7 linked regions of the Homo sapiens genome follow. The protein of the gene in region 2 purifies or fractionates together with the protein of the main gene of each other region. This does not show direct contact. Each region holds a gene or a part of one and is shown on either strand. Other genes may lie near its edges.

The links.
Region 1: the proteins of RAMP3 (region 2) and PARL purify together in Homo sapiens (co-immunoprecipitation; 2 studies listed by BioGRID and IntAct, with this or other methods). This does not show direct contact.
Region 3: the proteins of RAMP3 (region 2) and CDS2 purify together in Homo sapiens (affinity purification with mass spectrometry; one large-scale study listed by BioGRID and IntAct). This does not show direct contact.
Region 4: the proteins of RAMP3 (region 2) and BTN2A1 purify together in Homo sapiens (co-immunoprecipitation; 2 studies listed by BioGRID and IntAct, with this or other methods). This does not show direct contact.
Region 5: the proteins of RAMP3 (region 2) and SPG7 purify together in Homo sapiens (affinity purification with mass spectrometry; one large-scale study listed by BioGRID and IntAct). This does not show direct contact.
Region 6: the proteins of RAMP3 (region 2) and FAM210A purify together in Homo sapiens (affinity purification with mass spectrometry; one large-scale study listed by BioGRID and IntAct). This does not show direct contact.
Region 7: the proteins of RAMP3 (region 2) and CPS1 purify together in Homo sapiens (co-immunoprecipitation; 2 studies listed by BioGRID and IntAct, with this or other methods). This does not show direct contact.

The regions. Positions count from the first base shown.
Region 1 is NC_000003.12:183,863,916-183,868,416, reverse strand, and holds part of PARL (presenilin-associated rhomboid-like protein, mitochondrial isoform 1 precursor), read left to right. Parts: intron 1-356; coding exon 357-552; intron 553-1,651; coding exon 1,652-1,792; intron 1,793-4,501. UniProt on the Homo sapiens protein: Required for the control of apoptosis during postnatal growth. Essential for proteolytic processing of an antiapoptotic form of OPA1 which prevents the release of mitochondrial cytochrome c in response to intrinsic apoptotic signals.
Region 2 is NC_000007.14:45,181,188-45,185,148, forward strand, and holds the end of RAMP3 (receptor activity-modifying protein 3 precursor), read left to right. Parts: intron 1-1,969; coding exon 1,970-2,225; 3' UTR 2,226-3,063; downstream 3,064-3,961. UniProt on the Homo sapiens protein: Accessory protein that interacts with and modulates the function of G-protein coupled receptors including calcitonin gene-related peptide type 1 receptor (CALCRL), calcitonin receptor (CALCR) and G-protein coupled estrogen receptor 1 (GPER1).
Region 3 is NC_000020.11:5,132,871-5,137,371, reverse strand, and holds part of CDS2 (phosphatidate cytidylyltransferase 2), read right to left. Parts: intron 1-4,501. UniProt on the Homo sapiens protein: Catalyzes the conversion of phosphatidic acid (PA) to CDP-diacylglycerol (CDP-DAG), an essential intermediate in the synthesis of phosphatidylglycerol, cardiolipin and phosphatidylinositol.
Region 4 is NC_000006.12:26,456,505-26,461,433, forward strand, and holds the start of BTN2A1 (butyrophilin subfamily 2 member A1 isoform 1 precursor), read left to right. Parts: upstream 1-1,450; 5' UTR 1,451-1,638; intron 1,639-2,102; 5' UTR 2,103-2,132; coding exon 2,133-2,214; intron 2,215-2,976; coding exon 2,977-3,324; intron 3,325-4,929.
Region 5 is NC_000016.10:89,552,450-89,555,882, forward strand, and holds part of SPG7 (mitochondrial inner membrane m-AAA protease component paraplegin isoform 1 precursor), read left to right. Parts: intron 1-529; coding exon 530-686; intron 687-1,344; coding exon 1,345-1,511; intron 1,512-2,036; coding exon 2,037-2,114; intron 2,115-3,428; coding exon of another isoform or gene 3,429-3,433. UniProt on the Homo sapiens protein: Catalytic component of the m-AAA protease, a protease that plays a key role in proteostasis of inner mitochondrial membrane proteins, and which is essential for axonal and neuron development.
Region 6 is NC_000018.10:13,719,714-13,724,214, reverse strand, and holds part of FAM210A (protein FAM210A), read left to right. Parts: intron 1-4,501. UniProt on the Homo sapiens protein: May play a role in the structure and strength of both muscle and bone.
Region 7 is NC_000002.12:210,591,017-210,594,598, forward strand, and holds part of CPS1 (carbamoyl-phosphate synthase [ammonia], mitochondrial isoform b precursor), read left to right. Parts: intron 1-814; coding exon 815-953; intron 954-1,862; coding exon 1,863-1,940; intron 1,941-2,338; exon of another isoform or gene 2,339-2,658; intron 2,659-3,491; coding exon 3,492-3,582. UniProt on the Homo sapiens protein: Involved in the urea cycle of ureotelic animals where the enzyme plays an important role in removing excess ammonia from the cell.

The sequences.
Region 1 (4,501 bases), on a different chromosome or scaffold from region 2:
AGACCCTGTCTCAAAAAAAAAAAAAGAAACGGACAATTTATAGAGTTCTCTAGCTTTTTACCAGGTCTTCAGATTCTTTCTGTGTGGAGAATGGATACAAATTATTTTGTTGACTGATAGAAAGTAATAGCCCAAAGTAGTATCCTCTGAAGTTGCTGTAGTTTGTGTGTCACCTTTTCCAGAAAGGTTGAATTTTGTGGCTTTGAATTCTGTCTGAGAGTAGGAGTCTTGGCTGTTTTTGGACTGTAGAGTGAGAATAAATTGAGATGGTGATGATGCAGGCCAAGTGGAGGTTCATAGAAGTTGATATTTGCAAGACGCTACTGTGTTTCTCATCTGTTATTTTTGCCCCATAGGTTTAACTTCTTTATTCAACAAAAATGCGGATTCAGAAAAGCACCCAGGAAGGTTGAACCTCGAAGATCAGACCCAGGGACAAGTGGTGAAGCATACAAGAGAAGTGCTTTGATTCCTCCTGTGGAAGAAACAGTCTTTTATCCTTCTCCCTATCCTATAAGGAGTCTCATAAAACCTTTATTTTTTACTGTTGGGGTAAGAGCTCACTTTGCTAGGAGTTACCTACCTTGCTAGAAATGCAGTGTTAAAGTACTTTGTCCCATTTGGGCTCCCTTAAAGTAAGGACAGGTAGAGGGGGGATCAAAAAGAGCTGGGCTCATGAATTCTAATTATAGAGTCTGAATTTTTTTTTTTTTTTTTGAGACGGAGTCTCACTCTGTCGCCCAGGTTGGAGTGCAGTGGCGCGATCTCGGCTCACTGCAAGCTCCACCTCCTGGGTTCACACCATTCTCCTGCCTCAGCTTCCCAAGTAGCTGGGACTGTAGGCACTGGCCACCACGCCTGGCTAATTTTTTGTATTTTTAGTAGAGACGGGGTTTCACCTTGTTAGCCAGGATGGTCTCGATCTCCTGACCTCATGATCCGCCCGCCTTGGCCTCCCAAAGTTCTGGGATTACAGGAGTGAGCCACTGCGCCCGGCCTAGAGTCTGAACTTAAAAATTGCTTTTATTATTAAATTCTGGCTTACTTATGTAAGCCCTAGAGAATAAACATATGGGCCTTGTTTGGTACAGCATTTCAAGCGGTGCTAAGTTGGTATTTTCAGTTTTATTTGAGGATTTATAGCTGGAAACAGGCCCCAGGGTATTGTGAAGTTAATACAATGGGAAACAATAAAATGTCCTTTTTGGCCAGGCACAGTGGCTCATGCCTGTAATCCCAGCACTGGAGGCCAAGGTGGGTGGATCACCTGAGGTCAGGAGTTCGAGACCCCTCTGGCCAACATGATGAAACCCCGTCTCTACTAAAAATACAAAAATTAGCCGGGCCTGGAGGCAGGTACCTGTAATCCTAGCTACTCCAGAGGCTGAGACAGGAGAATCACTTGAACCTGGCAGGCAGAGGTTGCAGTGAGCCCATATCGCACCATTACAGTCTGGCCTGGGAGACAAGAGTGAAACTCCATCTCAAAAAGAAAAAAAAAAGCCCTTTTCACTTATTAGGTTTCACTGTGCCAAGTATTCCCTTCTGTTGGTTTGTAAAAAGCAATGACAGTGAAGAATTCTCCTTGGAAATAATGTATAGATCTATTTCCCTCTTAAATCTATTTTGTAATATATCTAATTTTATATAGTTTACAGGCTGTGCATTTGGATCAGCTGCTATTTGGCAATATGAATCACTGAAATCCAGGGTCCAGAGTTATTTTGATGGTATAAAAGCTGATTGGTTGGATAGCATAAGACCACAAAAAGAAGGAGACTTCAGAAAGGAGGTAAAGATAAACACTGCTTTCTTTCTTCTAGTTAATCACGGTTTTAAAAAACTGATACTTAATAGATGCACGTGTTTTCAGTGTACATGATGCATTCACATAATGTGTAATAATGAAATCTGAGGAACTGAATATCTATCACCTTAAACATTTATCTTTATGCTAGGTATATTTGAATTGTTCTCCACTAGCTATTTTGAAATGTACTATAGATTATAGTTGACTGTAGTTACTCTACTGGTAATCCCAGGTTTTGAAGCCTGGTTATTTATGAAGTGCTTTTAGTTAATGGCAACATCAGATTAATAGATGTCAAGTCAGTGCACTTAATATTCTTCACAGTAAGTATTGATTACTGTTTTATATATCTGGTGTTGTACTTAACAGTGTTCCAGAATTCTGTCCCTCTACCCACATGCATCAAAAATCACCACGGATAGTTGTTAAAAATGTTAACGTTGGCCGGGCACAGCGGCTCAAGTCTATAATCCTAGCACTTTGGGAGGCCAAGGCAGTCAGGAGCTGGAGACCAGCCTGGCCAACATAGTGAAATCCCATCTCTACTGAAAATACAAAAATTAGCCAGGCGTGGTGGTGCATGCCTGTGGCCCCAGCTACTCAGGAAGCTGAGGCAGGAGAATCGCCTGAACCCAAGAGGCAGAGGTTGCAGTGAGACGAGATTGTGCCACTGCACTCCAGCCTGGGTGACAGAGCGAGAACTCATCTCAAAAAAAAAAAAAAAGAAAAGAAATTAATGTTAATAGTTGTTAATGTTTCTGCGTGGAGGATGTCTCAGCTCTACTAAAGTTTAAGGATCTCAGTGGATCTCAGCTCTACTAAAGTTTAAAGGCCACTGTTTTACTTGGATCACCTTGATGGATTGCTTTAGAGCAGCAGTCACCAACCTTTTTGGTACCAGGGACTGGTTTTGTGCAAGACAATTTTTCCACAGGTCGGGGTTGCAGGGGGGCAGATGGTTATGGGATGAAACTGTTCCACCTCAGATCATCAGGCATTAGATTCTCATAAGGAGCGTGCCACCTAGATCCCTCACATGTGCATCTCACAGTAGGGTTTGCATTCATGTGAGAATCTTATGCAGCCACTGATCTGACAGGAGGCAGAGCTCTGGTGGTAATGCTCTCCCACTGCTCACCTCCTGCTGTGTGGCCCAGTTCCTAACAGGCCACGGACCACTAGTGGTCAGCAGCCGGGTTGTTGGGGACCCTGGCTTTAGAGTACGTATTTGAACTGCAGGGAATTTTTCAAAATATACATGCCTTAGGGATAGAGCTAGCAAGTGATTTTTTTTTCTAAGAGACAGCGTCCCACTCTGTCACCTAGGCCTCAGTGCAGTAATGGGATCATAGCTCACTGAAGCCTCAAACTCCTGGGTTTGAGCAGTCCTCCCGCCTCAGTCTCCTGAGTAGCTGGGACTACAGGCGTGTGCCACCATGCTGGGCCAATTATTTCATTTTTTGTGGAGACAGGAGTCTCACTTTGTTGCCCAGGCTGGTCTCAAACTCCTGACCTCAAGTGATCTCCCACCTTGGCCTCCCAAAGTGCTGGAATTTCACAAGTGTGAGCCACTGTGCCTGGCCCCAAGAGGAGTTTTAAACGTTTCTCAGTGACATGATATTTACACACCTGTGGTAAATACCTGCTGTTGAGTGTCTCTAAACTGTGCTCGAGATGAAATACGGAAAAAAAAAAAAAAAAAAGAAATATGGAGCTTTTAGAGCTTTTCATTTACTTTATATGCAAGTCGATGGCCCTCTTTCTTAACTGATTTCTTAAAAATGTTTGCTTTTAGATAAAACATGTATTTTGTTTCTTTTTTTTTTTCTTTTGAGACAGAGTCTCACTTGTTGCCCAGGCTGGAGTGCAGTGGCGCGATCTCTGCTCACTGCAAGCTCTGCCTCCCGGGTTCACGCCATTCTCCTTCCTCAGCCTCCGGAGTAGCTGGGACTACAGGTGCCCGCCACCACGCCCGGCTAATTTTTTGTATTTTTGGTAGAGACGGGGTTTCACCGTGTTAGCCAGGATGGTCTCGATCTCCTGACCTCGTGATCTGCCCACCTCGGCCTCCAAAAGTGCTGGGATTACAGGCATGAGCCACCGAGCCCAGCCAATATTTTATTTCTTTTATTCACCAATACATATTGAACACTGAGATTTTAGTTAATATGTGGTTTCAGGCCCATTTGGTTTTCAAGCACTTCTGTTTTTTTAATGACACATTGCCCTTCCAATCTGGAGAGTAGGTTGATATCTTCTTTACTTTTCCCCTTCCTTGGAACAGTGTGATCCTGGCCAGCAAGAGCCTGAGAAGGAAGCCTTGCATTTTCTTTTTGCTAATGATGTTTTGAGTTTTCTCTAAGTAGGGAAAGGGATTCATTCCTCCTTGTTTTCCCATGGGCACATTCAAGAAGCATGAGCCCTATCTGTGTTAGAGAGGCTTTATGCCAGAACAGTGGATAATATTTGCAGGTGAAAATGACAATAACTAGCCATCGGCATCTGTTCAGTCAATGTATTTGAGAAGATAGTAAAACTGACCTATTCCATTATCCTGGATCTCTTACAAAGCTATAGGTTTCCAGCACATGTCTGCACATGAAGTTTTGATATCCAAATGTACCCAAATGGTTCTTGAGAATGGTGAAAAATGATACAAACAGTATACATAATCTTCATTTAAAGATTGAT
Region 2 (3,961 bases):
TACCACAAAGATGGTGAGTGGCTGAGCTGGAGTTGGAGAGGCCCTGCCATGTTGGCTCTGCAACCTGAGCCTGAAGCCACTGTCCATGCTGTCTTCTGGGATTACCTCTGCTCCGTGGGCTTCTCCATGTGGCCTAGCTTTGGCTGGGAGTGGGGTTTGGGAACAGCAGGGGCTTTCAGCCCTGCCTCACCTCCTCTTGGGACGGTTCTGGGGCTAGACATCACTCCTCTTGCCCTGTAGACTCGCTGTCCACAGAGGGTCTTCTCCAGGGTCTGTCTGGCTCATCTCAGCCCTGGGGATGGTTGTTGGGGGGTGGCATTCCTGGGTAGCAGTTCAGTGGAATGACTTTGGAGGCACAGAGGTTACCGCATGTGATTCTCATCACACACATAGATGCTGGGAACTTCTGAAGGTGAAGGCTGTTGCAGGGTGTTGTTAGACGGCTCCCCAGCTCCTGGATCAGCTGGCGGGGGGTTGGGGTGGACAGCAGGCTACTGAATCTGAGGCCCTGTGGGAGAAGCAGGTCAGGGAAGATGAGGGTTTGTCCATGGACCTAGCTGTTGAGGTGTCTCTAATGCCTGGGCATGTCTCAGGTGCTGCATTGTGGCTGAGGCCCAGGAGAGCCAACAGCTTTGTACTTGGATTCGAGGCTGTTTCTTTTGCTCTGGCTGTTCTCTGCTGACACTACCTGGAAAGGCACAGGTGTGTGTCTGACCTACATTCCAAGGTGCTGAGAGCCAGCCTTGGATCAGTCAGGAGCTGGGCTGAGTGACTGTACCTGGGCTTCCCAGACCCTTCCTGGGGCATGGGGTTGGGAGACCAGGAGAACCCTGGGTGGAGTAGGTCAGAGTCCCTGTTTCCTACCCCTTTCTGATGCTTTGGGAAATCTACGCCCAGATGATGTTCCATGCAGGAGGCAGCTCTTTCCTGTTGATGGGCCAGATCAGTGGCTCCCTCCTGGGACAGCGCGGGAAGGAGGAGATGGGCTACTTTCCCATGGGGAAGCCGAGGCAGGACCCTTCACACTCCTGCATCTGTACTCATGCAGCACAGACGTGGGGAAGTGCTAGCCCTGCACAGAGGGGGTGGCATCTGGGCAGGAGTCCATCTAGCTTCGTCTAGAACATCCTGAATGAGTGGCTGCCACTCTAGGCCTTGCAGACCCCAATGACAGGGAGGTCATCACCTCCACAGGCTGCCCATTGGAACAGGTGGTGGCTGGGAAGTCCTTTATGCTGAGTTGACCTCTGGGTCTTGGTGGCTATAGCCCTTGGTCAGCATGAGGACTGTCCAGAGCCTGTGCTGGGCGGTCATGGAGCATCATGGGTGGTTTGCTGAGTGCCCTTCCCATCTTTGATCTCATGGACAGGGGGACCCACAGGAGGGGGCTCCACATGTCCTGCTAGATGGGGCTGAAGGAGGCAACTTCTGAGTAGGAGATGAAGAGGCAGGGACTGGGGCTCACAGGTCTGACTCCCACTTGGCCACCACCTGGCACATGAGGGCAGGCTGACTTGATTAGGAGGTGGCTGGCCCCTGGCCTCAGAGAGACCCTCCTCTCAGGCTCTTAGGGTATCCTGGATGATGAAGGCTTTGCAGGTCCAAGCGGCTGTGATCCAGGCACCCTTTGGCCCTGGAGAAGCATGGCTTGGTGTGTCCTCTGGGCAGACCTGCGTAGTGCTTAGAGGTCCAGGGAAGCTGGGCTGAGACCCTGGATCCTGGGAGCTCATGGCCTCAAAGGCAGCAAGTCATGGTCATTGTGATGCAAATGTGGGCAGGGGACACAGGGAATGGGTCATGGGCACAGATGACCCTGTGGCCAGAATGGGGATTTTCCAAGGCTGGGCTGTGAATAGGTGGCCAAATGGGACTGTACCCAAGCCACCCCACCCATCTTCCTGGCCTCAGGTCAGGGCAGGTGTGAGGGGGGATGGCGAGAGCCTGGCTTTCACCCCCTCTGCTTTTGCAGGTACTATGAGAGTTTCACCAACTGCACCGAGATGGAGGCCAATGTCGTGGGCTGCTACTGGCCCAACCCCCTGGCCCAGGGCTTCATCACCGGCATCCACAGGCAGTTCTTCTCCAACTGCACCGTGGACAGGGTCCACTTGGAGGACCCCCCAGACGAGGTTCTCATCCCGCTGATCGTTATACCCGTCGTTCTGACTGTCGCCATGGCTGGCCTGGTGGTGTGGCGCAGCAAACGCACCGACACGCTGCTGTGAGGGTCCCGGTGAGATGGAGTGGGTCACACCTGGCAAGCTGGAAGAAAGTTCCCTGGGGATGGGAGAGCGGGTGGGTGCTGCCAATCTCCAGCTACTGTGGCCACACCCCACCTGGTCATGGGCAGACCCCTCCCTTCCTGGGCTGACCTGCTCCCTCGAGGCCAGCCTGCTCCCTGGCTGAGGCTCAGGCTATCCGCCCAAGCTCTTTGCTCATTCTAGGGCCAGTGGAGGAAAATGTGATAAGGCCAGAGCTTGTGTGCTGGGCACAGAAATCACCTGCTGCATCCTGTGCTCCGCAGGCTGGGCCGGAGCCTCTGCCCGCAGGTTTCTATGCTGTTTCTTAGCACAGAATCCAGCCTAGCCTTAGCCGCAGTCTAGGCCCTGCTTGGACTAGGACTCCTTGCTTGACCCCATCTCTGGTTCCTGCCCTGGCTCCTGCACCAGCCCCAGCTCCTGCCTACATCCAGGCAGAAAGATAGGCAGGGGCTCTTGGAAGACGTTCCGTGCTGTGACCTCCGAGCCCTCCTGGTGGGAAGACAGCTGGAAAGGCTGGGAGGAGAAGGGAGGGGCTGGGGGTTCCCAGGAGCCATGCGTGGCCTGCAGAGTCCATTCCATCATGATGCTGTGCCCGCTATGGGCTGTGTCCATGACCAGAGGCTGGAGTGGGGGTGTGTTAGAGCCCCTCACCGGGACTTGCTGTGCGGATGGGGCCTGGGCCTCCTTCCTACAGGGGCTCCTCTGTGGGTGAGGGGCCCTCTGGAATGGCATCCCATGAGCTTGTGGCCTCTATCTGCTACCATCTGTGTTTTATCTGAGTAAAGTTACCTTACTTCTGGAATTTCCTGTTTTGTTTCATGTTATTCAGAGAGACGGTGCATCTCTTGGGACTGATGAGTCCCCTGTACATATTGTACAGATAGGGAACAACTGAGGTTCTGGAATCCCAGAATGTCAGCGCTTAGGGGGCTCAGAGAGTGTTACAATAGGAGAGGGGCCTGACAGGAGGAGGGACTTGCCTAGCTACTCGCAGCCCCTTGGGCACTTCCCATCCCTGACCCATTGGTTTGAGGATGACAGGGAAGATTTCTCTCTCTTCTGTTTTCCCTTTGCAGCTGCCTTGGGCTTGCTAGGACCCCTGCCTGGGTTTTCTGGGGACCGAGAGGCCCTGGTCAGGTCTGGCTGGAGGCAGATGCTGGTCCTGGGGGGTCCCTAGAGCAGGTGGAGGGGCTTTATCTCCAGGCCTCTGGCCAGGCCCTTGTCCAGGCTCCAGTTCTGTGGACCTGTGTCTTTTGCATGTGGGCTGTTGGATCCAGGATCTTCTTGCTGGATCCCAGGACCCCTGTGAGTGGAGGCAGGCACGACCCTGGTAGTTCCTCTGCCTTTAGAGGCCCAGCTCCCCTTCAATGCCCAGGCAGGCAGGTTCTGGCACTGGGGATCTGCATGGTGGATGCCACTGGACCGGAGGTCTGGGTGGGTGGCCTGAGCCTGACCCCATTGGGGGCACAGTGTAGGGGACAGAATCTGAGTCTACTCCATGTTCTTGGGGCAGCCTTGGCCGGGCATGAAAGGTTGCGATCCCCATCACCTGAGCCTTGGCCAGCTATCTCTGAGATGGGACACCATCTGCCCGATGAGGTGACTGTGTGGAGACAGGGAGGTCAGCGTGCCCACAGGTGTCAGGCCATCTGGCCTGCAGTGGTGGCTCTGTGTTCAGTGGATCCTGGGGTCTCTCATGG
Region 3 (4,501 bases), on a different chromosome or scaffold from region 2:
CTAGGGAGGCTGAGGCAGGAGAATTGCTTGAACCTGGGAGGCGGAGGCTGCAGTGAGCCGAGATCACGCTACTGCACTCCAGCCTGGGCGACAGGGCGAGACTCCATCTCAAAAAAAAAAAAAGGGTAGAAATGAGGGAGGGTGACAGAAAGAACACATTTCAGAGGTAGGAAAGAGCAAGAATCAAGATCCATGACACAGAGGCACCAAGCAGGGAGAAAGGCCAGTTAAGAGAGAAGGCTACATAAAAAAGAATAAAATCATATCCTTTGTGGCAACATGGATGCAGCTAGGGGTCATTATCCTAAGCAAATTAATGCAAGAAGAGAAAACCAAACACTACATGTTCTCACTTGCAGAGTGAACTGGGAGCTACACATGGACACAAAGAGGGGAACAAGAGACACCAGGGCTTGAGGGTGGAGAGTGGGAGGCTGGTGAGGATTGAAAAACTACCCATCTAGTACTATGCTCACTACCTAGGTGACAAAATCATTTGTACACCAAACCTCAGCAATGTGCAATTTGCCCGTGTACCAAACCTGCACATGTATCCCCTGAACCTAAAACAAGAATTGGAAGGAAATGAGAGACAGAAGACTACAAAGGATCTTAAAGTTTAAGCATTATGAAAAAGAGCCAGAATTCTATCACTCCACCCCACCCCCCCAATAATTATTAGGGCAGTTTCAGAACTCCTGAAAGATACAAAGAACAAGATGGATTAGGAGGGACCTAGAGCAAATCCTAACAGGAGGGAGCTCAATTCACAGGGTTTACAATAAGGCAAGCAATAAATCCTGAAATTTGGGAAATCTCAAAGAGTAAAAGACAGATAAGGATTCCAGGAGAGGTAAGGAATTCGGATTTAGGATACTGCAGGCATTTACAATACTGCAGTCCTGAAATGTTGAAGTCTCCAAGAGCAACAAACAGACAACAAACAACAAACAGATAAGGATTCCAAGTCACACCTGGTTAGAATCTGCATCCTGCCCTGGGCACGGGAACAAAGGAATAGGAGATTTCAAGCCTGAGTAACCGAGTCATCTGGGATTTTATCGCAGAAGAAAGAAACTGAAGGAGGGTGGTAAGAGTAGAATGAGAGAATTCAGATTTGAGACAAAGTCAGTTTGTGTGGACTGAAGGGCATGCACCTAGGAATGTCTTGTAGACCACTGAAACCACAGGACTAGCCAGGCATGGACTGTGGAGATATGGCTCTGAGAGTTGCCCACTCAGGGGTTCGGTGTCAATGGCAGACATCCTCTCCACATCAGAGACCCAGGGGCAGAGAGTGTTGCCCGTAAATCCCAAGTCCCAGGAACTCTCAAAACCTCAGCAAAGTCTTTACAGAGAAGCCCCAAGCTGGCCCTATGGAGACCTTAATACAAAGGAGCTTCTGCCAAAGACAACAAATCAAAAAGATGTCTGACTTTGGTAGGACAGGTCAGGTCCTTCCACACAGACAGCAGTGCTCATGAGAACCACAGTGTGGCATGAGGCTGTCCCTGGGGAGAGGCAGGCGGGAGAAAGGAAACTTCACAGAATACCCTTTGCTGCCTACAAATTCTGCACCACAGACTGCCTACTCAAAATAACACCATAAAGTTTAACTTTCTTCAAAAGGTCAGTCAACTTAGTGGGCTCAATGCCATCCCTACTGTTGGGGCAAACAACATGAGAACAAATATCAGTGACTGGCATAGGAAGCTGCCCGGTGGGGACCATACGTGGGGGTGGGGAGGGGGTGCCTCACTATTACCCCAGCCAAGTAACCACCACATGACAAGACTTGGAAGGCAGGAACCCTGCCCAGTGCCAGGAACAAATTAGCATTCTTTCAAGGAGACTTTGGCAAAATTAATAGTGAAGAGTCAGTGTCCGTCTCTTTTCTGAACCAGAGGCAGTATGACACACAAACAGCTGTACTTTTTCACCCCCAACAGCCTCTAGTGCCAGTCCAGAAGGGCTGGGAGACCTTAACAACATAGAATGTAGCTTAACAAACTGTGGAGAGGAATCTCCTCCACCTACGTGGATCCTAGAAAAGATGGAAAAGTGTGAAAACCAGAAACAGTAACACTCAAATCTTTTCAAACAGTTTAAAGGATGATTATCTGCCCTGTGAAATTAGTTACAATGGCCGGGCACGGTGGCTCACGCTGTACCAGCCCTTTGAGAGGCCGAGGCGAGAAGATCGCTTGAACCCAGGAGTTCAATGGTCAACATTTTAAGACCCTGTCTCTATTATAAAATAAGTATGTATATATTTATATATATAAATTCAAAAAAGAAATTAGTTACAAGATTCATTTTAAAAAGAGTTTCTCAAATATATTCAAGATTATATAATTTCTGGCAGTTGTAAGGTTGAGAATAAAGTGAGGGAGGAGAAATGCTTTACATTAGTAGGACAGTGCAGGTTTTATACAATCTTCTTGTTTATCAAACATATTCTGAATGATTTTATCAAGTATTATGTTCCCATATCCATCAGCTGTTAGACTCTCATGCTCATTTTCTACCTTACCAATTTAAATATGCAGTCGGCTGGGTACGGTGGCTCATGCCTGTAATCCCAGCATTGTAGAAGGCCAAGGCAGGCAGATCACCTGAAGTCAGGAATTTGAGACCAGCCTGGCCAACATGGTGAAACCCTGTCTCTACTAAAAATATAAAAATTAGCTGGGTGTGATGGTGGGCGCCTGTAATCCCAGCTACTCGGGAGGCTGAGGCAGGAGAATCACTTGAACTCGGGAGGCAGAGGTTGCAGTGAGCTGAGATCACGCCATTGGACTCCAGCCTGGGCAACAAGAGAGAAACTCCATCTCAAAAAATAAATAGATAAATAAAAATAAAACTCTTAAATATTATTGATTTAAAAAAGATTGTATTATTTCTTTAAATCAGTAGGGAAAAAATTGATTATGTGGAGTCAAAACAGGCAATAAAATTCTGAATAATATCCTTATGAACACTGATAACACCAGCCCCTCTCAGAAATACAGACACCGTCCATAGCAGACCCTACAGTCAGTGAATGTTCTAAAGAGAAGCGTTGAATACTGAATGACTGCTTATTACTAGAACAAATGGTTCTCATGCTAACAGTCATTAACTGGAAAGCATTTCTTCCAAGCACCCTCACCCACTGCCTGGGTAAGGCGCCTTGTGGTCTTCAAGCACTGCGCCGGGAGTGCCTTTCAAGGATACCAGAGTGGCCACTCCCAGGAAAGTGCTCACAAATGTCTAAATCACAGTCATCCGATAACCAGGAAAACTGAAACTAATCAACTTTCTCTATAAAACACATACATTTTTTTCTGCAAAGAGTCTCCACATTTACTCTGAGACCTTTTTAACATTTAACATTTTGAAAGATTTATATAGTATTTTTTTGATTTTGTAGCCAAATAAGAAAAATAGGTAACATTTGGGTATCATATCTATCAATGTTAATCAATAAAGAAGCTTTTAAAGTCTGTAAATTAATTCTATGAGAAAAAAATAAAAAACAACAACCGGGAATTAGAAGACCTTCATAGGCCAGGCGCGGTGGCTCACGCCTGTAATCCCATCACTTTGGTAGGCCAAGGCGGGAGTATCACCTGAGGTCAGGAGTTCGAGACCAGCCTGACCAACATGGAGAAACCCCATCTCTACTAAAAATACAAAATTAGCTGGGCGTGGTGGCATGCCCGTAATCCCAGTTACTCAGGAGGCTGAGGCAGGAGAATTGCTTGAACCCAGGAGGCAGAGGTTGCGGTCAGCTGAGATTATACCATTACACTCCAGCCTGGGCCAACAACAGCGAAACTTCGTCTCAAAAAATAAATAAATAGAAGACCTTCATAATACGAACCATTCTGTATCTAACCAACTAAGTCATCTTGAGCTAATAACTTAAACTCTCTGAGCTGTGGCATCCTCTTCTATAAAATAACTACCTCAAGCCGGGTGCCATGGCTCAGGCCTGTAGTCCTGAGCTACTCAGGAGACTGAGGTAGGAGGATGGCTTGAGCTCAGGAGTTTAAAGCTGTAGTGAGCTATGACTGTGCCACTACACTCCAGCCTGGGCAACAAGGTGAGACCCTGTTCCTAAAAATAAAAAACACCTTTAAAGTCCCTTCTAGTCCTAACAACCAAGGAGAGCAATTTAACATTTTTTAAAGATGATAAAAATTCTTTTTTTTTGAGATGAAGTCTCGCTCTGTCCTCCTGGCTGGAGTGCAGTGGTGGGATCTCGGCTCACTGCAAGCTCCGCCTCCCGGGTTCACGCCATCACGCCATTCTCCTCAGCCTCCTGAGTAGCTGGGACTACGGGCGCCACCACACCCAGCTAATTTTTTTTTTTTTTTGTAGTAGAGAAGGGGTTTTGCCGTCTTAGCCAGGATGGTCTCAATGTCCTGACCTCGTGATCCGCCCGCCTCAGCCTCCCAAAGTGCTGGGATTACAGGCGTGAGCCACCGCGCCCGGCCGATAAAAATTCTTCTAATGA
Region 4 (4,929 bases), on a different chromosome or scaffold from region 2:
TGGTTCCTCCTTTCCAGTCCTAGAAATCCTGACCTAGAGTGGCTTAATCCTGCTAGCACCTCTCTCTCGCACTCTGGTGCCAAATGACTCCAGGAACTGGGCCATGATGTGGTGGGAATGACCTTACCCTGAGCATGTCACTCATGCATTGAACAACAGCTAAGAGCAGAGCTTAGAGCTTAGAGCTGGGCCCTGTAAGGTGAGAGGAATCACATCCTGCAGAAGTCTGTCCTGAGAAGCAGGTACTCCTGTCACAGCAGAGACACAGTGGATACCTGAGTAACAATAATACAAGACAGGACGTGGGAACAGCAAAAGATTTGGGTGTCAGAAGAGGCCGAGAACACTTCAGGCAGGAACATTCAGAGTTGTTCTTGGAGGAAGTAGGCACGAAGGCTGGGCAGGATTTCACGGGGCAGAGATGGAGCAAGCAATTGAAATGAAAGCCATGGCATGGGAAAAGGAGCACTGGCCACAGGGAGTGCAACGTTGTGATGCAAGGCCACTGTGGAGCCATTGCTAGCGTATTAACTGCAAAGTTTTGAATTGAATCAGAAGGGAATTGGAGGCCTCCAGACTAAGCATTTAGACACTTGAGGGGAATATTGACAACTGGGCCTCGGGAAGATTATTCTGGAAGATATCTTTACAATTACAAGATTGGAGCCTTTGGGAGAGGGATGATGTTTACGGGAGGATGGTATGTGTGCTAGTGTGTGTGTCTGTGTGTGGCTCTTGGACCCAACCTGACCACCTACTATCTAGAAGGTGAAGGACAACTAGAAAGTTTTGCTCAATTCCATCTTCTGCCACCACCAGAATGCCACCTCCCTGAGGGAAAAGGTTTTTGATCCTCAGTCAGGATTCTCAGCACCTCTTATCCGATAGCTTTGGAATGAATGGCAAGGCCTTCATAACAGCCACTGCAACTGCTGTCTCCTTTCCTTTGCTACCCCTCCCGCTCCAGCCATGCCAGCTTCCCCCAAGCCCTCCTGCGCTCCAGGCCCAACCTCCAAAGCCAGCAACTTGAACAGGAGTCCTCTGGCTTTGGAAAGGGGGCGGCTTACGTTTTCCTGCTCATGTTTCCTCCCCAGCAAAATTGCCCTCTACATAGAGAGGCCTCTCCTTGTGGACACCAGCAAAGCCACCGACCTCAGTGACAAACCCCAGGGAATCTCCCCAAGGAATCTCAAAGCGAGAGAGAGAGAGAGAGTCTTGAGAGAGAAAGAGAGAGAGAGAGAGTCTTGCTTTCGAACAAAGAAAAAGGAAATAAAAAGACCCGATAATCTCAAAAGGTTATTTGCTGCTTGAAATTTGTGATTCGGTGTATTCTACCCAGCAACTGCTGAGAAATAAGGTTCGACACCATTGGCTGGTTCACTCACACCCGGCCAATCCTGGGCTCTAAAATACTTAGGGAACTCTTGGGACTGTGGAAGCCCAGGAGACCAGATTTCGTTTCCTGCATCTCCAAACATGGCGACCTAGGAGAAGGGGAAGAACAATTTTTTCTCCTCTTTTGGGAAGGTTTGTGTCTAGTAGTGCCTGTGCCCCTGGGCAGATTGGAGAGAAGAGGGACGACTGGAGAATCGTCGAGAACCAGCGGAGAAAAGAAAAAGCAACGTTTAATTCTAGAAGGTAGGAAACGGAGGGGAGGCGCTACAGCTCCGGGGTGGGCACAGTAGGTGGGGGAAGCGGGGTCTGCTGTGGACACGAGACGGGGTCCTGGGACAGGGAAAGCCCACCGGTGGGGAGGCGCGGCCTCGCCTGTCTTTGCCTCAGGCTGCCCGGCCTGGGTCGCGGGGAGGAGGAAGTGAAGGGAGGAGGGTGTGGTAGAATCCAGCGACAACTGAAGAAACTGCATTCTGGCCAGAGAAGTGAGCCGAGGAGGGCGGAAAAAGGCCCCCTTGATCTTGGCATTGATGGCTTACTTCATGGAATGTTTAAGGAATCCCTCTCTCGGGACATACCTGAGCCTTCGGATGCAGGGGACTCCCTGAAGTTGGGGCACTGATGAGACCTACTTGAGTGACGGGAGAGGTTGGGCCCGACCAGCACTGAGGTGCCAAGACTCCTAGGCTGATTCTCCTCTGTAACCCTAGGCCTCCTGTCCCTGCCTGCTCTGGGTGCTCATGGAATCAGCTGCTGCCCTGCACTTCTCCCGGCCAGCCTCCCTCCTCCTCCTCCTCCTCAGCCTGTGTGCACTGGTCTCAGGTAGGGATGTGTGCCACTTGCTGCTGTCACCTATCAGAAAGGAACATCAACCCTGTAGTCTGCAAAGGGAAAGAAAGAAGGACTGTGGAGTTGTTGACTTACCCTTTCATTCTGAACATGTTCATTGAATTTATACCAGCACTGTCCAAAAGGAATACAGTGAGGCACAAAGGCCGAGTGCATGTACAATTGCAAATTTTCAAAAAAAATTAAATTTTACTTTTTATTTTAAAAAGTAAAAAGAAACATGAAATAAATTTGTATACTATATTTTGTTTCGCCCCAAATAATCAAATACGAATATTTAAATACTTAGTTAATATACCATATTACCAATGAGATAGTCAACATTTTGAAATTTTAAATCTTCATAATCCTGTGTGTATTTTACACTTACAGCTCATTTCAGTTGGAACTAGCTAGTGGATATGTGTCCTATTGCACGGCTCAAGTTTACAGTACACTCAGGCACAGCACTAGATTGGGAAATCGAGGAAAATCCCCTCAAGGGCACAGGGTGGACAGAGGGTGCTCAGGGCAGGTTCCTCAGGGTTTCCTTCATGAAGCAGAAGCACACTTTATAGTTACTGCTCCCAGGGGTGCTGTCGACTAGCCACAGCTACTGGTCCCCAGATTTCTCAGCCCAAAGAGACCCTATGGCCATGGAAAAAATAAGTTTGTCCCTAGAATATCTGCTTCCTTTCTTGCCTTAGAGATGTGATGGCTGGTGTCTTTGTCTGACTCTACCCCTTTGTTGAACAGCCCAGTTTATTGTCGTGGGGCCCACTGATCCCATCTTGGCCACGGTTGGAGAAAACACTACGTTACGCTGCCATCTGTCACCCGAGAAAAATGCTGAGGACATGGAGGTGCGGTGGTTCCGGTCTCAGTTCTCCCCCGCAGTGTTTGTGTATAAAGGTGGCAGAGAGAGAACAGAGGAGCAGATGGAGGAGTACCGAGGAAGAACCACCTTTGTGAGCAAAGACATCAGCAGGGGCAGCGTGGCCCTGGTCATACACAACATCACAGCCCAGGAAAACGGCACCTACCGCTGTTACTTCCAAGAAGGCAGGTCCTACGATGAGGCCATCCTGCACCTCGTAGTGGCAGGTGCGTCGCTTCATTTTGCTTTGTTACTTTGGCACAGTGTGACTTTGGGGAAAGTTTCTCTCCTAACCTCAGGCCCATTGCAGACCAGCAAATTTTTGTCTGGACTCCCTTTTCCACTCTCCCTGTGGAAACGGAATTCCAGGGAAAAATCCTTCCTCCTGCACAAGGGACACATGAGTGGGTTTGCCCTGCTAAGCTAAGGGCTTCACTTCTTGAGAAGCACATGCAGAATTCAGCTGAGGCCGTGAGCAGGGGAAAATGGTCAGTCTCGGAAGAGAAGTCTTATACCTGCCTTAGGATTGAACTGTGCACTTCTTTTGGGTTTTTTTTTTCTTTTTGAGACAGAGTCTTGCTCTGTTGTACCCTCGCTGGCACGATCTTGTCTCACTGCAACCTCTGCCTCCCAGGTTGCACTTCTGAGAGTGAGAGGAGACACTGTCAATAATTGTTCCAAGACAACTGGAATAAACTGATTACCCAGAGAACTACAACATATCAAATCTTATTTCTTGATAAATATTAATCTTTACTTCATCTTTCCCAAAATGCTGATTGCAGAGAGAGTGACTTATTGTAAATAGATGGTTTTATTAAACCAAGACGAAATACAGAAGCAAAATTATATATAGTTCCTGCTAACTCCATAGAGAAAGACTACGAATTTTGCTGGGAGGTAATAGGGAAGCCTTCCACATAAAAATGCATTTAAACTGGGATTTCTAGGAATTTGTTAAAATGACATTAAGTGATTACTTCAGTTTTGGGGTTAGTGTATTATGCTTTAAAAGATATATTTGGGCTGGGCGTGGTGGCTCATACCTGTAATACGAGCACTTTGGGAGGCAGAGGCAGGTGGATTACTTGAGGCCAGGAGTTCGAGACCAGCCTGGCCAGCATGGTGCAACCCCATCTCTACTAAAAATACAGAAACATTAGCCAGGCTTTGTGGAGTGTGCCTGTAATCTGAGCTTCTTGGGAGGCTGAGGCACAAGAATTGCTTGAACCCAGGAGGCAGAGGTTGCAGGGAGCCGAGATCTTACCACATCACTCCAGCCTGGGCGACAGAGCAAGACTCTGTATCAAAAATTAAACAACAACAAAAAAGATATATTTGAGGACTGAAAAAGCCTTTAAGGTGCAGGATAATCTGTGGTGGCATTTCACTCCATCAGACCAGACAGAGGAGGTGAGGACTAGGGAATTGGGTCTTTCCCTGGGGGCCTCAAATCATAACAGGTAGGAGACCCCATCTTTGCTACACACAAAGGCAACCTTGCATCTGATTAAAGCAGAATATCATGGAAGGAGGGTTTCTTGACCCTGCATCATGACTGTGTTCATAGCAGCACTCCAGGGTTGACCAGTTATGGTTTCTGCGCGGCAGGAATCTGCCATTCTTTGCCTATAAAACTGACAGTGGCCTGGCCTTTCCCACTCTGAATTGGATTGCTTAGGACTTTTTGTTTGTTTGTTCATTGTATTCTCTTTGTTAGGTTGGTTGGTGGCTGATTTTGCCCTTAAATCTATTTTGTCATGCTTGCCTGTATTGAACCTCATAGAATGTTTTGAAGAATTTCGTTTTCCAATTTGCTGAGTTATTTTAAT
Region 5 (3,433 bases), on a different chromosome or scaffold from region 2:
TGGGCCAGCCCCTGCCCCGTCTCCGTCCGTCTCCCACTCAGCGGTTCCGTGTTGTCGAGTTAGCTCGTTGCCCCGCGCCACCTCCTTGCACACCTGATGTGGGGCTGTGGGGGAGCAGCAGAGGTGAGGACAGCCTCTGCTGCCTCAGCATCGTGGGGTTCTCATTGCTCTGAACCCTCAGTAGCTGTCGCTGGTGTGAGGGGTCAGCGCAGCGGCCATCGGGGGTGAAACTTGTCCTTCGCCTCTCAGCTGTCTTCTACGGGCCTTGTCTTCTTGACTCCCTGCCTGTCTAGTCATGTATGAGAAGACACTTCCCGGCAGTGTGTGAACAGGCACCTGTGGTGGGAACGCTGCTGTCTCTGGGCTGGCCATCTAGAGTGTTAGGATCCCCTGTTGTTGTAGAGGATGCTGCACATTTGCCTTCCTGCTTTGAGACGCTTTAATGACGGAGACCTCTTAGTCCCACACCTTCCTCCTCAAAGCCCACGCATCCTGCCTACTGACCTGGGTCATCTTGACCTTGTGCCAGGTCTCCATAACCCCTCGGACAAACGCCGCCCTGGGCTTTGCTCAGATGCTCCCCAGAGACCAGCACCTCTTCACCAAGGAGCAGCTGTTTGAGCGGATGTGCATGGCCCTGGGAGGACGGGCCTCGGAAGCACTGTCCTTCAACGAGGTCACTTCTGGTGAGGAGCAGCGGCGCGGGCCCTGGAGGTTTCAGAGCGCTTTTCCCTGCATGACTCCTTCTGTTCCAGTGCATGCCATGGGGTGAATCTGGTGTAGACGTAGCTTTGAATTTATTAAGTATTTTGTAAAAGATAAGTTGTGGTCATAAGAGAGTTGGAGCTAAGCAAGACTTCTTAGATAATTTAATTGGACAAAAACTTAACCTATATGCCAACTCTAGACACATTTAATTGGTTAATTGTTGGTAATGGCTACAGGAAACGGAATAAAATTGAAGCGGCTTCATTGTTCTGAAGCCATTACTGCACTGGGATATCCAGAGAGCTGAAGGAGGGTCCCGGGGGCCCCTGGGCTCCAGGTCCATGGGTTTGCCTCGCATAGGCCTGGGCTTGTGCTTGAGAACTGCCATGCAGTGAGCTCCAGTATGCCCCCGGGTTCTAGATTTCCAAATAAAAGAGCATTTCGGAAAGTTTTAAGACTCTCTTAAGGAACAGTGGTGAGGTGCCAACGTCCTCACTGTCCAGCTTCACGGTGGGTCCTCGGGAGGAAGGGGATGGAGGTGGTGCTGCCTCAGTGCTCTGACCGGGACACCTGGGGCCCAGCACTGCTCTGCGCCTGCAGTGCTGAGGATGCCTCTGTCTCGACCCCGCCCTCCAGGGGCACAGGACGACCTGAGGAAGGTCACCCGCATCGCCTACTCCATGGTGAAGCAGTTTGGGATGGCACCTGGCATCGGGCCCATCTCCTTCCCTGAGGCGCAGGAGGGCCTCATGGGCATCGGGCGGCGCCCCTTCAGCCAAGGCCTGCAGCAGATGATGGACCATGTGAGTCGGCTCTGGCCACACCGCTGCCCTCTGTGCTCCCCGGGGAGGGAGTCCCTGGGTCTACCACACAAGGGTCGCCCACGGCCGCCCCAGCGGAGCTCAGCTGCAGGCCCCACCTGGGTTTCTTCCTTCTGGGCTCTGCTGTAGTTCCCACCTGTGGAGTATTTTCTTCTCAAATGAGGACATAGATGCTCCTAATGAAATTATAGATGTGAATCTGGGAAGAATATCAAATAAATACACCGAGCAATAGACCCAGGGCCCACATGTCCTTCAGACTGGGCCAGGAAGGGCCGATGTGTGCCTGTGAGGCAGCTGTGGGTGGGTGTGGGTGGGTGGGCTGGCATGCGGAGCCCTGCTTTCCTGGCACTGGTCACAGGGGCAGGAGACCACCTGTCGGCTGAGGAGTCCTGTTCCTCCTGGGAGGGGAAAGGCCGTGTTCCCAGTCTGCCATTTCTTTTCTGTGCTTTGGTGCTGGAGCCAGGCGGCCAGCCTTGCCCCTGACACAGTTCCCTCCACTCACAGGAAGCAAGACTGCTGGTGGCCAAGGCCTACAGACACACCGAGAAGGTGCTGCAGGACAACCTGGACAAGTTGCAGGCGGTGAGGCCCTGGCCAGGCGTGGGGGCTACGGCGTCACACAGTGTCCACACAGCACCCACGGTCCCCACCCCTCTCGTGAAGTATTTCCAAGGCACACAGAGTACAGAGAACACTCTGACCGATGTGAATTCTACCCAGCTCAACTGAAACTTACGTGTTCCATACTTTTTATCCTGAACTCGTCAAGTGTGTTCCCCCGAGGTAGAAAGAAGGCTGCCACAGTCTCCTGTGCCTCTTCCTGCCATTAGCAATTACCAATGTTTTGTCAGTTTTGTTTAATCTTTTCCCAAGTCTTACACTTTTTTCTTGAACATTTTTTTAAAACAAAGCTTTAATTTTAGAGTAGGAATTTTTTTTTCTTTTTTTTTTTGAGACAAAGTCTTGCTCTGTCACCCAGGCTGGAGTGCGATGGCGACATCTTGGCTCACTGCAACCTCTGCCTCCCGGGTTCCAGTGATTCTCCTGCCTCAGCCTCCCGAGTAGCTGCGACTGCAGGCATGCACCAACACACTCGGCTTTTCTTTTTTTTTTTTTTTTGAGATGGAGTCTCTCTCTGTCACGAGGCTGGAGTGCAGTGGTGCAATCTCAGCTTACTGCCACCTCCACCTCCCCAGTTCAAGCATTCTCCTGTCTCAGCCTCCCAAGTGTCTGGGATTACAGGCACGCGTCACCATGCCCAGCTAATTTTTGTATTTTTAGTAGAGGTGGGGTTTTACCACATTGGCCAGGCTGGTCTTGAACTCCTGACCTCAGGTGATCCGCCTGCCTCGGCCTCCCCAAGTGTTGGGATTACAGGCGTGAGCCACAGCCCCACGCTGATTATAGTGTTAGATGTAGAAAAGTTGCAGGCGCGGTGCAGAGAGCTCCCTGCCACCCTGCCTCGCTCCCGTGGAGGCCCCCATGGGGCAGTCCTCCCACCTGAGGAGCCCCCGCCGACCCGCGGTGTTGGGTCCACACGTGATTCAGATGTGCTGAGTCTCCCCAGTGTCCTTTCCGGTCTTGGGAGTCCACATGGCGTTTGATCGCCCATCTTCTTAGGCTCCTCTGGGGTGACAGTTCCTCAGACCTCCCTTGTTTTGAGGGCTCTGGCAGTTTTGAGGATTGGTCTCATGTTTTGTAGGACGTTCCTCAGTTGCGATTGTCTGATGTGTTTCTCACAGTGGGCAGAGCTGGAGTGAACGTTTTTGTCCCTGGGTTTGGTAACTGCTGCTTAGAACTCAGGAGAGGTGCACGGCTCTTTGTCCCATGTTGTGAACAGATGGGTAGGCAGTGGATAGGTAGTTGTTTCTTCAGCCTCCCCTTGTGTCTTTCAAGCGAGC
Region 6 (4,501 bases), on a different chromosome or scaffold from region 2:
ACTTCTTAATGCCTGGGTTATGATGTCCCGAGAGAAAATAGTTAGATAAGGATGTTATCTTGCTGGAATGTGAGCTCCACCAAGACAAGGAAAGGACCTGCAGGATTTATTTCAACCCATTTGTAAGAAAGTGAGAGTACTTCTCTCAGAGGTATAATTTTAAAGTGTGATTTCTGTTGTAGAGTTGAAGATCATATTTTTGAAACATAGAGATTGTTTTAAAAATGTAGAAACAATGTTATAGTTTCCTAAGATAGTGTTCTGTGAAGAGAGGTGGTTCATGGAAGCTTTGTTCCTCCAAATAGTTTTGGATGAAGGACTTTTCCTCTGTTCCACTCAGGAAAGTGTTCCTACTGAAATTTCATTGTCTTTCTGGAACAAATAAAATATTATTGTTTAAAAGGTTTTTCCTTCAGTTGAAAATAAGATTTTGTTGAGTAATACTGTGTGTGATGATTAGTTTTATTATGTCAGCTTAGCTAGGCTATAATACCTAGTTATTTAATCAGATACTAGTTTGGTTGATGCTATGATGGTATTCTGAAGACGTGGTTAACATCTATAATCAGTTGACCTAAACTAAAGGATATTACCCTAAATAATGTGGGTGGACCTCATTCAATCAATTGAAGGCTAAAAAAGCCAAAACTGAAGTGTCCTGAAGAAGACAGTATTTTCCTCAAGACTGCAGCATCAATTCCTGCCTAAGTTTCCTGTCTGTAGATCTACCCTACACATTTTGAAGTTGCTATCCCCTACAGTTGTGTGAGCCAGTTCCTTAAAATACCAATATCTCTGTATCTGTCTATATGTAGATGAAGATATTTATGTTTTTATCTACATCTATATATTTTTTCCTATCAGTTCTGTATCTCTGTAGAGCCCTGACTGATTCAAATTTGGGTGCTGAGAGTGCTTCTAGTGAGCAGAATCTTAAGGATGAGTTTTCTGAATTGATTATAGTGTTTCTGGAATTGGTTTTCCAAACTGATCAGATTCAAAGGCAGTAATGAGTATTCCCTGTAGAAAAGAGGGCACTGATAGTCCCTGGTGTGATATGGCAACAAAGATATGCAAAAGATCACTATTAGATACTCCCACTCATGCTTATAGACAAGATTCAGAATGATCAGGTATTTGATACCTTAGAACATTTTAATCGAATTAATGAGTACAATAAGATAGGCTGGTTGCTTTTAACTGTACTGGGTAAAGTGAGAAAAGAAAAGGATGATCCCAGCTACTCAGGAGGCTGAGGCAGGAGAATCGCTTGAACCCAGGAGGCGGAGGTTGCAGTGAGCCGAGATTGCACCACTGCACTCCAACCTGAGTGACAGAGTGAGACTGTCTCAAAAAAAAAAAAAAGAAAGGAAAGAAAAGGGGAGCTTAAGGCTTCAAATTCCCGATTGAAGCTCCACATAAGTGACCTGAAAAGTTTCTGTGTCTGCCCTAAAGAAACCCGTATCTCTTGTAGCTACAGAGCTGAGGTTGGTGAAAACCAAATCCAGAGTCTTATCCTGTAGGTGGCTGAATTACAGTGCTAACTGAATTCCCTTCTCACCTTGGTCTGCTATTAAAATGAGGGCATTGATTGGGAAGGAATGGGATCTGCACATTTGGAATAGGGCCATATGGGAACATCCTGATGAAGCTGGGGATGTTAAACTCCTAAATTTGACTCACTCTTTTTTGCCAGTAGAAGCAGTTCTTCCACCTCTGAGGAGGTTAACTCTGCTTTGCCTGAAGAACCTGTAATGACCTCCCTTGAGGTAGTTACCTTGCAAGACATTGCCGGTTTTCCTCAGGAATCCGTGAAGAGCTCTGGGGTTGCTTTTCTCTTCAGGTCAGAGATTGCAGTGGGAGCTGTTGCCACTGACTGGGGGTCCTTAGCTGCAGCAGGGATGGTTGGATCTAGGATGGCAGGGGCTATGTGATCACCAAAGAGTAAGTAGGTGTGTTGCCATCATGGGGGACAGCGGAGTCAAAGCAACAATCTGAACAGCCTGACTTGGGGGTCCTAATTGGGTAGGTGGTCATGGTGTCCCTAGAAGAGAACTCGTTGGGCAGTCTACTGAATTCTGACTTGATCTCTATAAGCAGAAGAGTTCTAGGTCAAGTGAATGGAAGCTTTACTTTAATTACCAAAGAAAGAGTCATGGTCCCTCAATCAGTTCCCAGATTTGAGTCATTTTACAGACTCAGAACCCCCTGACTGAGGGGAGGCTGGATCCTTTTGAGGAAGGACCCCATTGCGCTGCTAAGAATTTATACCGTTAATTTTTTTCTCAGGTTTCCCAAAGGGACCTATGGCTTATCAGGGTAAGTGTGCACTGGAGAAGAGGAAATAATTAGACTTCTCACAGATTACTGAACTCTTAAGTCTGAACTGACACTAATTCCAGGACACTCAAAGTGTCATTTTGGCCCGCCATTCAGAGTAGGGACTTGTTGAGGTTAGGTGGTCAATGGAAGTTTAACCCAGGTTCTCCTCACAGTGGGTCCCCATATTCATCCTATGGTTACTTTGCCAGTTCCAGGATGCATAACTGGTATAGACATACTCAGCAACTGGCAGAATCCCCACACTGGTTCCCCGACTTGTGGAGTGAGGGCGATCGTGGTAGGAAAGGCCAAGTAGAAGCCACTAGAGCTGCCTCTTCCTGGAATAATAGTAAGCCAAAAGCAATACCGCATTCCAGGAGGAATTGCAGAGATGAGTGCACTTAAGGATGCAGGGGTGATGATTCCTGACATATTCGCATTCAACCCTCCTGTTTGGCCTGTGCAGAAAACAGATTGATCTTGGAAAATGACAGTGGATTATCATAAACTTAACTGAGTAGTGACTAATTGCAGCTGCTGTTCCAGATGTCATTTCATTACTTGAGAACCTATCCCCTAGTAACTGGCATGCAGTTATTGATCTGCTGAGTGCTTTGTCTTAGTATCTGTTAGTAAAGATCACCAAAAGCAGTTTTCTTTCAACTAACAAAGCCAAAAATACACCTTCACTGTCCTACCTCGGGAATGTCAACTTTCCAACACTATGTCATAACAAGATCTCTGTGATCTTGTTATGAGTTGAATTGTGTCTTCTAAAAATTTATGTATTGGATTCCTAGCCCTTAGTACCTCAGGGTATGACCTTATTTGGGAATAGGGTAGTTAAAAATGTAATTAGATAAGATGAGGTCATACTGGAGTAGGCTGGGCCCCTAATCCAACACAACTGGTGTCCTTATAAACAGGAGGAATTTGAACACAGACATTCACACAGGGAGAATGCCATATGAAACTGAAGTAGAGGAACACCAAGAAATGTCACACATTTCCAGCAAACCATCAGGAGCAAGGGGGTAGGCATGAAACAGATTCTTCTTCACCCCCTTTGAAGGAACAAACCCTACTGACACCTTGATCTTGGACTTCTAACCCCAGAGCTGGAGACAGTACATTTCTGTTTTGTAAGCTCCTCAGTTTGTGGTTCTCTATTACAGCAGCTGTAGCAAACAAATAGAGACCCTGATTGTGCTTCCCTTCCACAAAACATCATACTGGCCCATCACATTGATGACATTATGCTGATTGGACCTGGTGGGCAAGAAGAAACAACTACTCTAGACTTACTGGTATGACATTTGCATGTCAGAGGGTGGGAAATCCAACAAATATTCAGGGGCCTTCCACCTGTGAAATTTCTAGGGGTCCACTGGAGTAGTGTAGGGCATGTTCCCACCTATAACAAAAAGAGAAGCAAGGTTTAGTGGGCCTCTTTGGATTTTGGAGATGACAAATTCCTCATTTGGGTGTGCTACTTCAGGTTGTTTACTGAGTGACCTAAAATACTGCTAGTTTTGAGTGGATCCCAGAACAAAAGGCGCCTCTACAACAGGTACAGGCTGCTGTGCAAACTGCTCTGCCACTCAGGCCATATGACCCAGCAGATCTTCTGGTGCTTGAAATGTCAGTGGCAGATTGAAATGCTGTTAGGAACCTTTTGCAGGCCCTATAGGAGATACAGTGTAGAACCTTAGGATTTTGGAGCAAAGCCTTTCCATCCTTTGCAGGTAACTGCTCTTTTAAGAAACAGCTTTTGGGCTTGCTACTGGGCTTAATAGAAACTCTACGCTTAACCGTGGGCCACCAAGTTATGCAACCTGACTAGAAAAATGACTAGAATATTTCAGCAGTTAAGAGCACAAGCAGATGGCATGTGTTCAAATCCTGGTTATGTTATATTTACTAAGCATGTCATCCTTGAGTAAGTGGCCAAACTTTGTGTTTTGATTTCCTCATGGAGCGATTTTATAGAATAAATGAGATGATACAGTGCTTAGCACAGAACCTGCTAATTTTTAGCTTCTCTTAACACAACTGAAACTGCTACTGCAATGTCTTGTGAAGTCATTAGTCCATGCCTTTAAATGTGATTGTAGAATTTTTTTGCCTTGGTACAGCAGAAAAAATAGAGTGATTTTTTTTTTTTTTAATTCATGTAAAC
Region 7 (3,582 bases), on a different chromosome or scaffold from region 2:
TACCCTAAAACTTAAAGTATAATAAAAATAAATAAATAAATAAATAAATAAATAAAATAAAAAATAAAATAAATAACCATACCTTACGTGGTTGACAGTTGTTTGACTACCTGATACCACTTTTGTTGCATTTTTGGAAAGCAGCCTTCTCTAATGATAACCTTGCTATAATTTAAAGTTATTTTCCTTCCCTTGGCATAAATTGAGGTTATAATACTCAATCAAATGATATTCCAAGGGAAATTGTTCTGATTTTAAGCTTGATTTCAGAACATTGTAACATTTTAAGAAGGTAAGTGTGACTTAAGAGCCGAGGAACCTTTAGATCCTCTTGGTTTCTCTTTTTTGCCTCAAACAATATTAATTTATTAAACATCAGGCTTTTTCCCATGGCCCACCCTCTACATAAATTATAATTCAGGTCTGAGCAGTCATCTCTTTGTTATCTCCCTATAACTCTCGGGCTTTAAAATTATTGTAGTTCTCTTAAAGTAAGTCACTTATATTTCTTAGTTTCTGTTAAGCCGGTGAGCAACCCTTTTTGTTATGAGTGCAATGCCCCCCTTTCTAAAACCGATTATAGAATTTAATAGACCTGCGTATTTAACACACAACAAAGCTTCCTGAATTGATTTTTGTTGGGAAAATTACTGGGATTAACAATCTGTGACTTTTCTCACAGAGTGATTTTCACTAAGCAATTGAAATTTTGAATTTTAATAGGCTTTACTTGTTCACTACTTTATAAGGAATACATTTATATTATTCTCTTCACTTTTCCTTTTCCCTATTCTTTTTCTCCTTTTCTCTCCAGAGGGCAGAATCAGCCTGTTTTGAATATCACAAACAAACAGGCTTTCATTACTGCTCAGAATCATGGCTATGCCTTGGACAACACCCTCCCTGCTGGCTGGAAACCACTTTTTGTGAATGTCAACGATCAAACAAATGAGGTAAATGATGTCAATAAACCTGTTCAGTTGGTGATGAGAAACGCAGGGCTTTTAAAAATAATTGATACATAAGCATTGTATATATTTATGAGATACATGTGATATTTTGATACATGCATATCATATGTAATGATCAAATCACACTAGGATAACCATCACCTCATTTTTTATTTCTTTGTATTGAGAACATTTCAAATCTTCTCTTCTAGCTGTTTTGAAATATGCAATAAATTATTCACTCAGAATATTCACCCAGAGTTTTTAAATACACTATGATGCAAATACCTTTCTCCTGTTTGTTTGTGATTTTTTTGGGGTTGAGTGTTGAAAAACAGCTATAGGTTTTCTCCCATAGCCCTCTGTGTTTTAAAACGTCATTTCTCTCTCTTATTCTCTCATCAGTTGACTTGTTAAGATTCACTATTTGAGTTATTAATCAACAACTATCTCATATATTCAATGTTAGTGGGCTGTTGGTCCAAATCTGTTTGAGCCCCATCTGGGTGGGTCTCTGGGACTTACTTGGCACTGGTGTAGTGTTTGAGAAGACCCTTGGAAAAGTAATTTCGGACTTGGGGATAAGATGAGGACTTGAGTTTACTCTGAACAGAACCCAGAGGGGTCCCAAAGACTATAGACCAAATTTTTTATTTATTTATTTATTTTAAAGGAAAACACATTCAGTTGAGTCTTCATTGACCCATTTTCCATACTTAATCAAAAAGGTCAGATATGTAAGTCCTTAAGATATCGGACCATGTTACTTAATAGTACTGTTAGTTACAAAAATTTTGTTAAGCATCTAACTCAGTTTTTAAATTTGAGCTTTATTGTTCCCTGAATAATACATAGCCACACTTGACATTCATTGTTACAGAAGGAATTTCTTCCTGTTTCTTATTCCTTTAGGGGATTATGCATGAGAGCAAACCCTTCTTCGCTGTGCAGTTCCACCCAGAGGTCACCCCGGGGCCAATAGACACTGAGGTACGTCAAAAAGATGAGGCCTATTATGTATGCAAAAAAAAAATGTATTTGTGTGGAAATTCGAGAAACCAAAATAATCACCCCAGATGATCTTGAGCAGAACATTCTCAAGAAGAGTGCTTTGGTAACACACATTTTGTATTAAAATCTCCCCATGAATGTCACAGAGGAAATTTTTATCTTTTTTAAAATTTAAAGTGGGAAAGCCCTTAAGAAACCCGAAGCGATGGTATTTTTATTTAAACCCATTATCATTCTAATATATTTAGTTCTGAAATTTACAATTGTTGTACTATGCAAATGAATTCCCTTTTGCTCTCTCTCGTTCTCATGACTGAAATGAAATTTTAATCCCCCATCTGTGACTTCACAAAAATCCCTATGGCAACTGGTTGTGTAGCCACTAAGGGAGAATAAACAGCAGCAGGAGAAGGAGGGGAAGGGTGTTGGAGGGGAGAGAGGGCATGCATGCACATACATAGATGATTCAGACGGCTTCAGAAAAGAACCACAAGGAATGCTTAGAGGAGTTTTGTATTTAATCTAAATATTTTTACTTTTTTGTGTGTGAGCTCTTAGTTCATTGTTCAAACCCATCTTTCCAAATAAATTCTTCTGGTGATATCCAGAAAAATCTGAAGTCTATTGTGACTTCCCCACACCCAGGGGCCTCCAGTAGCAAATCTTCATTGTCAGAACTCTCAGAAAAGACTTCGAGGTAAAATGGGGAAGAGAATAAGAGCTTTCTTTCTGCAAGCTCTGCTCTACTCTCTCATGTCTGAATTGCCGTTTTAGATATTTATATTTTGTTCTTGTTTTAATATTATTAGGAAATATTGGTTCTTAATAGCCAAAATCAGTATTATATTACCAACCCATGATGAAACTCATAAATCAAATTTAGTTATGTGTATCATCTAACACATGCTAAGTAGTTTTTTAATTTAAAATTTAAATTAGCATATATTAGTACTTCGGATTAGGAACATTGCAATTAAGATGTAATAATATCCACTGTCACATAATTCTCCTTTTTTGTCTTTCCAATAATTGCAAAATGAATATTCTTTGTTGTAATTTGTCATATCTAGTGAAACAACAGAAGTAAATCCTTTGGCAAAGATTAAGAATAATCTTCAGAAACTGTTTTTTAGAGCCGATAGAAATTTAAATTTAAATTAGTATTTCTAATTTTCTATATCATAAGTGATATAGCTTCAATTGTTATATCCACCTAGAATTTGATTTAGAAGAAACAAATGATATACAATTTACTAAAAACTTGGCATTCTCAGAAGGTATCTGATATGTTTACTGCTTGTTGGAAACTTCTTTTTTATAAGACTTGAAGTGAACAGAAGTGTTTATTTGATTAAATTCTCACACTAACAGATATTTAGTTATTGACAAAAAAGCAAAAAAAGCTGAAATGCTATAATAAAAATTATTTGTTGCTTATCTGAAGTTCAAATTTAACTGGGTATATTGTGTTTTATCTGGTGAACTTAGGAATTTTGAAGCTTCTAACTAGTTGGTTGTATTTTTTTCTAGTACCTGTTTGATTCCTTTTTCTCACTGATAAAGAAAGGAAAAGCTACCACCATTACATCAGTCTTACCGAAGCCAGCACTAGTTGCATCTC